Homo sapiens: one gene and its partners. The protein of the gene in region 1 purifies or fractionates together with the protein of each later gene. This does not show direct contact. Each region holds a gene or a part of one and is shown on either strand. Other genes may lie near its edges.

The links.
Region 2: the proteins of P2RY14 (region 1) and ATP12A purify together in Homo sapiens (affinity purification with mass spectrometry; 3 studies listed by BioGRID and IntAct, with this or other methods). This does not show direct contact.
Region 3: the proteins of P2RY14 (region 1) and RAP2A purify together in Homo sapiens (affinity purification with mass spectrometry, with the first as the bait; one large-scale study listed by BioGRID). This does not show direct contact.

The regions. Positions count from the first base shown.
Region 1 is NC_000003.12:151,212,384-151,216,043, reverse strand, and holds part of P2RY14 (P2Y purinoceptor 14), read left to right. Parts: intron 1-1,703; 5' UTR 1,704-1,727; coding exon 1,728-2,744; 3' UTR 2,745-3,660. UniProt on the Homo sapiens protein: Receptor for UDP-glucose and other UDP-sugar coupled to G-proteins. Not activated by ATP, ADP, UTP or ATP.
Region 2 is NC_000013.11:24,700,765-24,704,424, reverse strand, and holds part of ATP12A (potassium-transporting ATPase alpha chain 2), read right to left. Parts: coding exon 3,503-3,660; intron 2,491-3,502; coding exon 2,354-2,490; intron 1-2,353. UniProt on the Homo sapiens protein: The catalytic subunit of a H(+)/K(+) ATPase and/or Na(+)/K(+) ATPase pump which transports K(+) ions in exchange for Na(+) and/or H(+) ions across the apical membrane of epithelial cells.
Region 3 is NC_000013.11:97,467,303-97,469,692, forward strand, and holds the end of RAP2A (ras-related protein Rap-2a), read left to right. Parts: 3' UTR 1-1,826; downstream 1,827-2,390. UniProt on the Homo sapiens protein: Small GTP-binding protein which cycles between a GDP-bound inactive and a GTP-bound active form. In its active form interacts with and regulates several effectors including MAP4K4, MINK1 and TNIK.

The DNA of each region.
Region 1 (3,660 bases):
CACACACTCAACCCACCCCAAACCAGGCTAGGAAAGTTGAGGTTTCCTAAGGAAAGTGACAGCTAAGCTGAGGCCTTGAGGATAAAGAGAAGTTAGCCAGCCAAGAAGGTATGGAAACAGTTTTCCACACAAATGAAAGTCTGTGCAAAGGTCCAGGCTGAGAGAAATCACAGAACCTAAAAGGAGGCAGATGGGCCCAGGACAGCAGGAACTCAGTGCTGGGGGTGGAGGAAGCAGGAGGCAGAACAAGAAAGGACTTCAACATTACAGACTTAGGGCATTCTCCTGAGGGCAAGGACAGACTACTAAAGGGTTTTAAGCAGGATAATTGGTACTGTTCACATATAAGATGGGCAGTAAACATCTGTTCCGATATATCAAATAACCTTTTGAATTTAATTCTAGTCTTCCCTCTGCCCTAAATCAACACTTCCGACATCAGTGAAGAATATACAGGATTCCTAAACAATAGAAGTTCTGGATAACACCTAGCACAGCACTGTGCAATAAAACCATAATGTGAAACACATATGTAATTTAAAATTTCCTAGTAGCCAGAGTCTTAAAAAGTAAAATTAAGTTAAATTTAAGAGTAATAATATATTTTATTTAATAGAGCATTTGTAGAATATTACTTCAACATGTGATCAGTATTAAAAATACTGAGATATTTTACATTTTTTCATTCCAAGTCTGCAAAGTCTAGTGTGCATTTTATACTTAACAGAACATCTCAATCTGGACTGGCCATATTTCAAGTGCTCAATACCCACACATGGCTAGTGGCTACCATACTGAATAGTACAGATGTAGAATGTACTTTGGGAAGCATTTCTCAGAATGCTTAAAGTACTTTTTATCATTTGTTTGTATTTGTATTCTAATTTATTAAAATAATGCAAATCAGTTTTTCAATGGGAAAAAAAAAAAGCTCAATATTGAAAAGGTACCCATAATCCCATACCAAAAATACCGGTTAACATTTGAATGTATATGTTTGTTAGACACTGTCTTCATGTCCAACATATATGTAGAATACACTTTTCTAAAAGTAAGGTCCGTCTGAATAGCTCTTAATATGTAAACATTTATAATGATTTTTATGAATCCATAAAAATTTCTCTTTTAGGAAAAAACAATCACATTTCCAACATAGGTTTTAAAAAAATACATTACACATGGGATTCTGAATAAAATAAAACATTAATTCTGCTTTTACAGTTACTACCTTTTAAGATTATACCTAAATGAGTATTTCCTAGAACTCTGGAGTTTTATAGGGAACCATTATTATTTTAGGGGCATGCTGGTCTCCGTATTACCTAGAAGTTCTCAGAGACTGCCCTGCTGCTCCAGTTTCTCTTTACTGCCACCTGTCTGCTCCATTCTTCCCTTTTCATTGCCCAAAAAAAAGGAAGAAGGAAGAGGAGGGAAAAGGGAGGGGGAGAGGGGAGAAGGAAGAAAGGAGTGGGGGTTGGTGGGTAAAGGGGGAAAGAGGGAGGGAAAGGAGAAAAGGAAGACCAAAAGAAAGAAAAGGAAGAACAGAGGGAGGGAGGGATGAGTGTCTAACTTACACAGAGTAAAAAGGTGGCTTCAAAAATTTGGTAGGTTTGACTATATTCATTGCCCTTTGCCTTATTACTCAGCAAATGTCTTGGAGGCCATAAGTGCCCTATGAGTGACCAGTTCACACCTCTTTTCAGGCCTCTGCCTTCAGAAGTTACAAGATGATCAATTCAACCTCCACACAGCCTCCAGATGAATCCTGCTCTCAGAACCTCCTGATCACTCAGCAGATCATTCCTGTGCTGTACTGTATGGTCTTCATTGCAGGAATCCTACTCAATGGAGTGTCAGGATGGATATTCTTTTACGTGCCCAGCTCTAAGAGTTTCATCATCTATCTCAAGAACATTGTTATTGCTGACTTTGTGATGAGCCTGACTTTTCCTTTCAAGATCCTTGGTGACTCAGGCCTTGGTCCCTGGCAGCTGAACGTGTTTGTGTGCAGGGTCTCTGCCGTGCTCTTCTACGTCAACATGTACGTCAGCATTGTGTTCTTTGGGCTCATCAGCTTTGACAGATATTATAAAATTGTAAAGCCTCTTTGGACTTCTTTCATCCAGTCAGTGAGTTACAGCAAACTTCTGTCAGTGATAGTATGGATGCTCATGCTCCTCCTTGCTGTTCCAAATATTATTCTCACCAACCAGAGTGTTAGGGAGGTTACACAAATAAAATGTATAGAACTGAAAAGTGAACTGGGACGGAAGTGGCACAAAGCATCAAACTACATCTTCGTGGCCATCTTCTGGATTGTGTTTCTTTTGTTAATCGTTTTCTATACTGCTATCACAAAGAAAATCTTTAAGTCCCACCTTAAGTCAAGTCGGAATTCCACTTCGGTCAAAAAGAAATCTAGCCGCAACATATTCAGCATCGTGTTTGTGTTTTTTGTCTGTTTTGTACCTTACCATATTGCCAGAATCCCCTACACAAAGAGTCAGACCGAAGCTCATTACAGCTGCCAGTCAAAAGAAATCTTGCGGTATATGAAAGAATTCACTCTGCTACTATCTGCTGCAAATGTATGCTTGGACCCTATTATTTATTTCTTTCTATGCCAGCCGTTTAGGGAAATCTTATGTAAGAAATTGCACATTCCATTAAAAGCTCAGAATGACCTAGACATTTCCAGAATCAAAAGAGGAAATACAACACTTGAAAGCACAGATACTTTGTGAGTTCCTACCCTCTTCCAAAGAAAGACCACGTGTGCATGTTGTCATCTTCAATTACATAACAGAAATCAATAAGATATGTGCCCTCATCATAAATATCATCTCTAGCACTGCCATCCAATTTAGTTCAATAAAATTCAAATATAAGTTTCCATGCTTTTTTGTAACATCAAAGAAAACATACCCATCAGTAATTTCTCTAATACTGACCTTTCTATTCTCTATTAATAAAAAATTAATACATACAATTATTCAATTCTATTATATTAAAATAAGTTAAAGTTTATAACCACTAGTCTGGTCAGTTAATGTAGAAATTTAAATAGTAAATAAAACACAACATAATCAAAGACAACTCACTCAGGCATCTTCTTTCTCTAAATACCAGAATCTAGTATGTAATTGTTTTCAACACTGTCCTTAAAGACTAACTTGAAAGCAGGCACAGTTTGATGAAGGGCTAGAGAGCTGTTTGCAATAAAAAGTCAGGTTTTTTTCCTGATTTGAAGAAGCAGGAAAAGCTGACACCCAGACAATCACTTAAGAAACCCCTTATTGATGTATTTCATGGCACTGCAAAGGAAGAGGAATATTAATTGTATACTTAGCAAGAAAATTTTTTTTTTCTGATAGCACTTTGAGGATATTAGATACATGCTAAATATGTTTTCTACAAAGACTTACGTCATTTAATGAGCCTGGGGTTCTGGTGTTAGAATATTTTTAAGTAGGCTTTACTGAGAGAAACTAAATATTGGCATACGTTATCAGCAACTTCCCCTGTTCAATAGTATGGGAAAAATAAGATGACTGGGAAAAAGACACACCCACACCGTAGAACATATATTAATCTACTGGCGAATGGGAAAGGAGACCATTTTCTTAGAAAGCAAATAAACTTGATTTTTTTAAATCTAAA
Region 2 (3,660 bases), on another chromosome or scaffold:
CCTTGAATGGAAGGCCAAACAAATCTTCCTAAGTAGGGAAGGAAGGGCAAATATAAAAAAGAAGCAATTGAGAAGATGCAGGAATAAGGTATCTTATATACAACTTTCATTAAAAATTGCTAAAATGGGCCAGGCGCAGTGGCTTACGCCTGTAATCTCTACACTCTGGGAAGCCAAGGCGAGCAGAACCCTTGCAGTCAGGAGTTAAAGACCAGCCTGGCCAACATCGTGAAACCCCGTCTCTACTAAAAGTACAAAAACTAGCCGGGTGTGGTGGCACATGCCTGTAACCCCAGCTACTCAGGAGGCTGAGGCAGGAGAATTGCTTGAACCCAGGAGGTGGAGGCTGCAATGAGATTTCACCACTGCACTCCACACTCCAGCCTAGGCAACAGAGAAAGACTCCATCTCAAAAAAAAAAAAATCTGCTAAAATTTTAAATTAAAGTCCCAGCTACTTGGGAGGCTGAGAGGGGAGGATCCCTTGAACCCAGGAGGTGGAGGCTGCAATGAGATTTCACCACTGCACTCCACACTCCAGCCTAGGCAACAGAGAAAGACTCCATCTCAAAAAAAAAAAAATCTGCTAAAATGAAGCTGGGTGCAGTGACACAAGCCTGTAGTCCCAGCTACTTGGGAGGCTGAGAGGGGAGGATCCCTTGAACCCAGGAGGTCGAGGCTGCAGTGAGCTATGATCACACCATTGCACTCCAGCCTGGGTGATCTGACAGGACACCTTGTATCTAAAAAAAGAAGACTCGGCTGGTCTGAAGGTAGTAGTGAATTAGCTCAACTGATTGTTCACAGTCAGTTACAGATCAAACTTCTACTCTTTCCCCTCTTCTCACTACTGCACTTGACTACTCTTAAAAAAATTTCTTTTAGTCCAGGTGTGGTGGCTCACGCCTGTAAGCCCAGCACTTTGGGAGGCTAAGGTGGGTGGATCACTTGAGGTCAGGAGTTTGAGACCAGCCTGGCCAACATGGCAAAGCCCCGTCTCTACTAAAAATACAAAATTAGCCAGGCATGGTGGCGGGCGCCTGTAATCCCAGCTATTCAGGAGGCTGAGGCAGGAGAATCGCTTGAACCCAGGAGGTGGAGATTGCAGTGAGCTGAGATCACACCACTGCATTACAGCGTGGGTGACAGAGAGAGACTCTGTCTAAATAAACAAACAAACAAACAAACAAAATTTGTTTAAAATTCTAAAGTGAAAAAAAGTATAATCCGATTATCTTACAAAACCAAACAAATAAACAAGCCCCAAAGTTGTTTTCATAGAGGGATGTTATGTATACTAAAGGGCACTGCAAGACTCTTAGACTTCAGGTACTGCTGCTGTGCCCAGAGGCGGGAACCCTGGTTGGTTGTCTAACGTGGTAATTTGTTATGACCTGACAGCTGTGTGTCCCTAAAAGACCTAAGTGCTTGGGGAAACTGAAGAGGTGCATTGGTCTTTCCCTCATCTCCCGCATGCGTGAAAACATAACCCAGCTAATGAACATTACTTCTCAACCTGAGAATTCGGAGTCTTTGACTCATGGAGACCAGGCACAGTCCAGGCCACTCTCCTGCATGCCCAGCTCCCTAGCCTTGTGTGGCTCCCTCATTACACTGGCCACATCATTGTTAGCTTTGTTTGTGTCTCCTTGGCTCGATGGAAAGATTCCCCAACGGTGTGGATAGTATTGTTCAGTTTGCTACTGTAGTTCCAGGTCTTGCCTGGTATATAGTTGGCACGCAGTAAATACTTGTTGAAAGAACAAATACATGAGTGAATGTACAGTTGGATGAACATGATTAAAAGAATAAGGATAAACATGATTAAAAGAATTAGGAGAAACAAGGAAAAAAACTTTCCTTAGGAAGCTTCCATTCTATCTATTACCAAATAAAAAAGAAGGGTGTGTTTACATAGCTACACGTTATGAAACCGGGTGGATAAATACCCAAGATGCTTACCAAGGAGGGTGCATGAAACAACCCACAGGGTTCTTACGATTCCAAATTATGCAACTGCATCTATGGCAAGTAATTTCACATAAACCCTTTGTTTCAGTTTTTCTTATTCTAAATTGGGCACATAGGTTTTGTGCCCAGGGCACACTGGATTTTGAAATTTCAAACAAGGAACACATAAAGGGTCATTTCATGGTATCAATACTGTGCCTGGCACATATTAGCTGCTCAGTGAAATTAGAGTGAATACATGGATATGCAAATAATAGCTCAAACAAGCCTAGCATAACTCTGAGAGCAAAAAGCTGATTTGTTCCAAGTAGTGCAGCTCTTTAGAGCCAGTGGGGCCCCATGGGTATAAACTGGAATTTTTACTATGCTGCTCCTGTGCTTACCGTTTGTTAACTTGCTCCACAGCAATGTTGAGGCGATGTGCAATGTCTTCCACTGTTTCACTGTTGGCTGAAATGATCCCCACACTCTTGGCAATAGCTTTGGCTGTGATGGGATGATCACCAGTAACCATAATAACCTAGAGCAAAGACAACGAGAAGGCCCACGGGTAATGAAGAACTCGGTTGGCCAAAGTGGGGATGGTTCAGTAATACCTACTCTGTAGTGCCCTGGGAGAACGTGGTTGGTGATTACAGTGGCAGCTCTGGATCTACGAGACAACTGTCTTTGGAGGAAACACTAATCCCATTGGGTCTACCCTTGCTCCTAAGCTTCATACGCTTCCTCCTCTGACATGAAAGGAAGCCCTTCCCCTTTGATGCCACTTTATTTGTGAAAGGGCTGGTGAGTGTCTACTTGGGGGTAGCCCCATGTTACTTCAACAGTCTTAATATTAACCTAGTAATGATGAACATGGATTATGGGGGCTGAGCCTCAAGACTGAGTAATAAAGCCTTTTTTCTTTCTTTTTTTCTTTTCTTTTCTTTCTTTCTTTTTTTTTTTTTTTTTTTGAGACAGAGTTTCACTCTTGTTGCCCAAGCTGGAGTGCAATGGTGTGATCTCGGCTCACTGCAACCTCTGCCTCCTGGATTCAAGAGATTCTCCTGCCTCAGCCTCCCGAGTAGCTGGGATTACAGGTGTGTGCCACCACATCTGGCTAATTTTTTTGTATTTTTAGTAGAAACGGGGTTTCACCATGTTGGCCATGGCTGGTCTGGAACTCCTGACCTCAGATGATCCGCCTGCCTCAGCTTCCCAAAGTGCTGGGATTTCAGGCATGAGCCACTGCGCCCAGCCAATAAAGCCTTTTAGTATCTACCATGGACTAGGGCGAGATATGGTCACTTCAAGGCACTAGGAGATTCTTCTCATTGCATTTACTGTTTATGTGGTTCATTCCACATAGACACAATCATTTTCTTTTTGTGGGACAGTTTCAGTAACCTTAGCACAGTGAAACTAGAAATAAAATAGGAATTATGATATTTACTTGAAGACACCTAAATACTGACCATCTGCTATGAAAACCATTATTAGAAAGGAACACGACATAAAGAAAGAACTTCTTGAGTCAGGAAAATAACTCCCACCTTGATCCCTGCACTCCGGCATTTGGTGACTGCATCTGGCACGGTGGACCGAGGGGGATCGATCATTGACAAGAGTCCCACAAAACAGAGGTTGGAGGTCGGAAAGTTCATAGCGTCTATGTCAAATGAGTAGGTTTCTGGAAACTCGTCTGCTGGCA
Region 3 (2,390 bases), on another chromosome or scaffold:
ACATAAAATATTTTCTTAAACTATTGAAAGGTGCTTTGATGATTTTCTCCTTTGGTTTGTAGAATTAGGACTGAACTTTTGACTCAAATTGCTACAGTTGCCATCACCTTTCTGTGGTAATACTACTGATATTTGCTTTTCTATATAAAGAAATGTTGCCTAAGGCTGTCTGGTATTTCTTTTCAAGGGTTTTCCAGTATGAATGTTAATGTTGTCAGTGTATGTATGAATATGAAAGTGCTTTGTTTTGTTTGTTGCTGTTTTTTGTTTATGTGTGTGTTTTTAATTTTTTTGTTCTTATCAGCAGTCTTGTGTTAGCACTGGGTAAGCTTTAATTGTCCCTTAGCCAATCAAACATTAAGGACTATGGAGGTCTTTTTTTTTTTATTTAACATGTCATTGTTCATCTATTAAATCTTGATCAGGGTTTCAAGAATGACTGCAGTGGGTTTTGGAAACAGACTTATCATTATTGATTTGAGGTTTCCCAGAGATATAGTTCACAGTTAATTGTTGCGCTCTAATACAACTGACCATTTAAAATTGAACAAGTTTATTGTTTTGTAACAATGTCAGTTGTTAAACCTTGACATTTCAATTAAAACATGAATTGTAGTTATAACTCAATGCAAATTCAACAGTTGTATTTGGAGTTAAATTATTTTAACAAATAAATTTATTTAATGAAACTCTGGATTTGCTTTGTTTTGTACATGCTCATGAGAGAAATGTATTATATACAAAAACAATTAAAAATTGCCATATAATGAATTTAGTACTCTTCATACAAAAATATTTTAGCTGATTTGAGAGTTCATCATATAAAAAGGCAGGTAGGTAGATAATTTTCATAGTCTTTAAAAATAAAAATAACATGTAAGAGACTGTAAAATCAGTTATTATAAATATAAACTTATCTCTACAAATGATTTTATATTTTGAATGGTAGCTGGTTAATTTAAAGCCTGATGCTAAGGTTAACAGAATTGTTCAAATAATTAACATTAATTAGCAATATCACTAAAATGATTCAGAGGCCTTCTAGTGATGGCTTGAAGCCGTCTTTCTGTTTTCAGGTCATGTGGATCCGAAGGTGCCAGAAGCTGAAGGTTGCCGCCAGGCTGTAGGGCCTGCTTGTTCTATATGGGGCCCTATGAAAGTTGACAGATGCTGTTAATTGTATACAGCCTTCAGCTGCTCTGATAAGGAGCCCATTCATTTCCTAAGCCAATTTAAACTATGCCTTTTGGTTATGTTGCCTTCAAACTCTGTTGAAATCCTCTGGCAGCATTCCACCAGTTGAGAAGCTTCATTGTTTTAGATTATAAGAATAATTTGAATGAATATAACAGAGGCACTGTAGATAGAATCCCAGATATTTAAAGGAAAACATGCCTATATTTTAGGAATATCTTCTGAAGAACTTCATAATTTTATTTGAAGTGTTTGTAAATTTTTTAATAAATTATTTAAATGTATCAATAGTGGATAGTTGGAAGAACGTCTTTGAGGCTAAAAAGTAGTACTCTGAAATTCTCTCAAGTTATATTATTTGTCTGTTAGAGGTCCACGAATGAAAATATATGTAGCTAAAGGAGTAAGGTGCTGCCCAATTTGGAACCCAACTGACCTCTAGGATCTATGAAGCAGAGAATATTACCACAAACTTCTGAAAGAAGCTGTTGACCTCGTTTCTTAATTTAAAATATGTTGCCACATAAATACTAATAAAACATAGTTGCTCTTCATCTCTTAAATGGATCATTCCAACTGGTTTTACATCGTTGAATATTATCTAGTATTTTTAATAAATATTTTCATAAATAGTTTTTGTGGTTTTTTTGTTTGTTTTTGAGACAGTCTCGCTCTGTCACCCAGGCTGGAGTGCAGTGGTGTGATCTTTGCTCACTGCAAGCTCCCTCCCGGGTTCACACCACTCTCCTGCCTCAGCCTCCCAAGTAGCTGGGACCACAGGTGCCCATCACCATGCCTGGCTAATTTTTTGTATTTTTTAGTAGAGACGGGGTTTCACCATGTTAGCCAGGATGGTCTCGATCTCCTGACCTTGTGATCCTCCCACCTTGGCCTCCCAAAGTGCTGGGATCACAGGCGTGAGCCACCATGCCTGGCCTATAAATAGTTTTTAGATAATATTCAACATCCCCAACATCGAGGTATTGAGTTTTAAAAGATTTGCTGCTATTCTAGGTAAGACGCTGTGTTATTTCTTTCTATATTTTCTTAGTAGTCTTCATGTTAGCCTCTAAGGATTCCTCCAAGATTTCTCAGCAGAGAAAAAGGTAGAGGACTAGCTGCTTGAAAGAGTAAATACGAAGACCTATTTAGTATGTATGAGTTGGGAATAAAACTGAAGGAAAGATTCTTGGTTT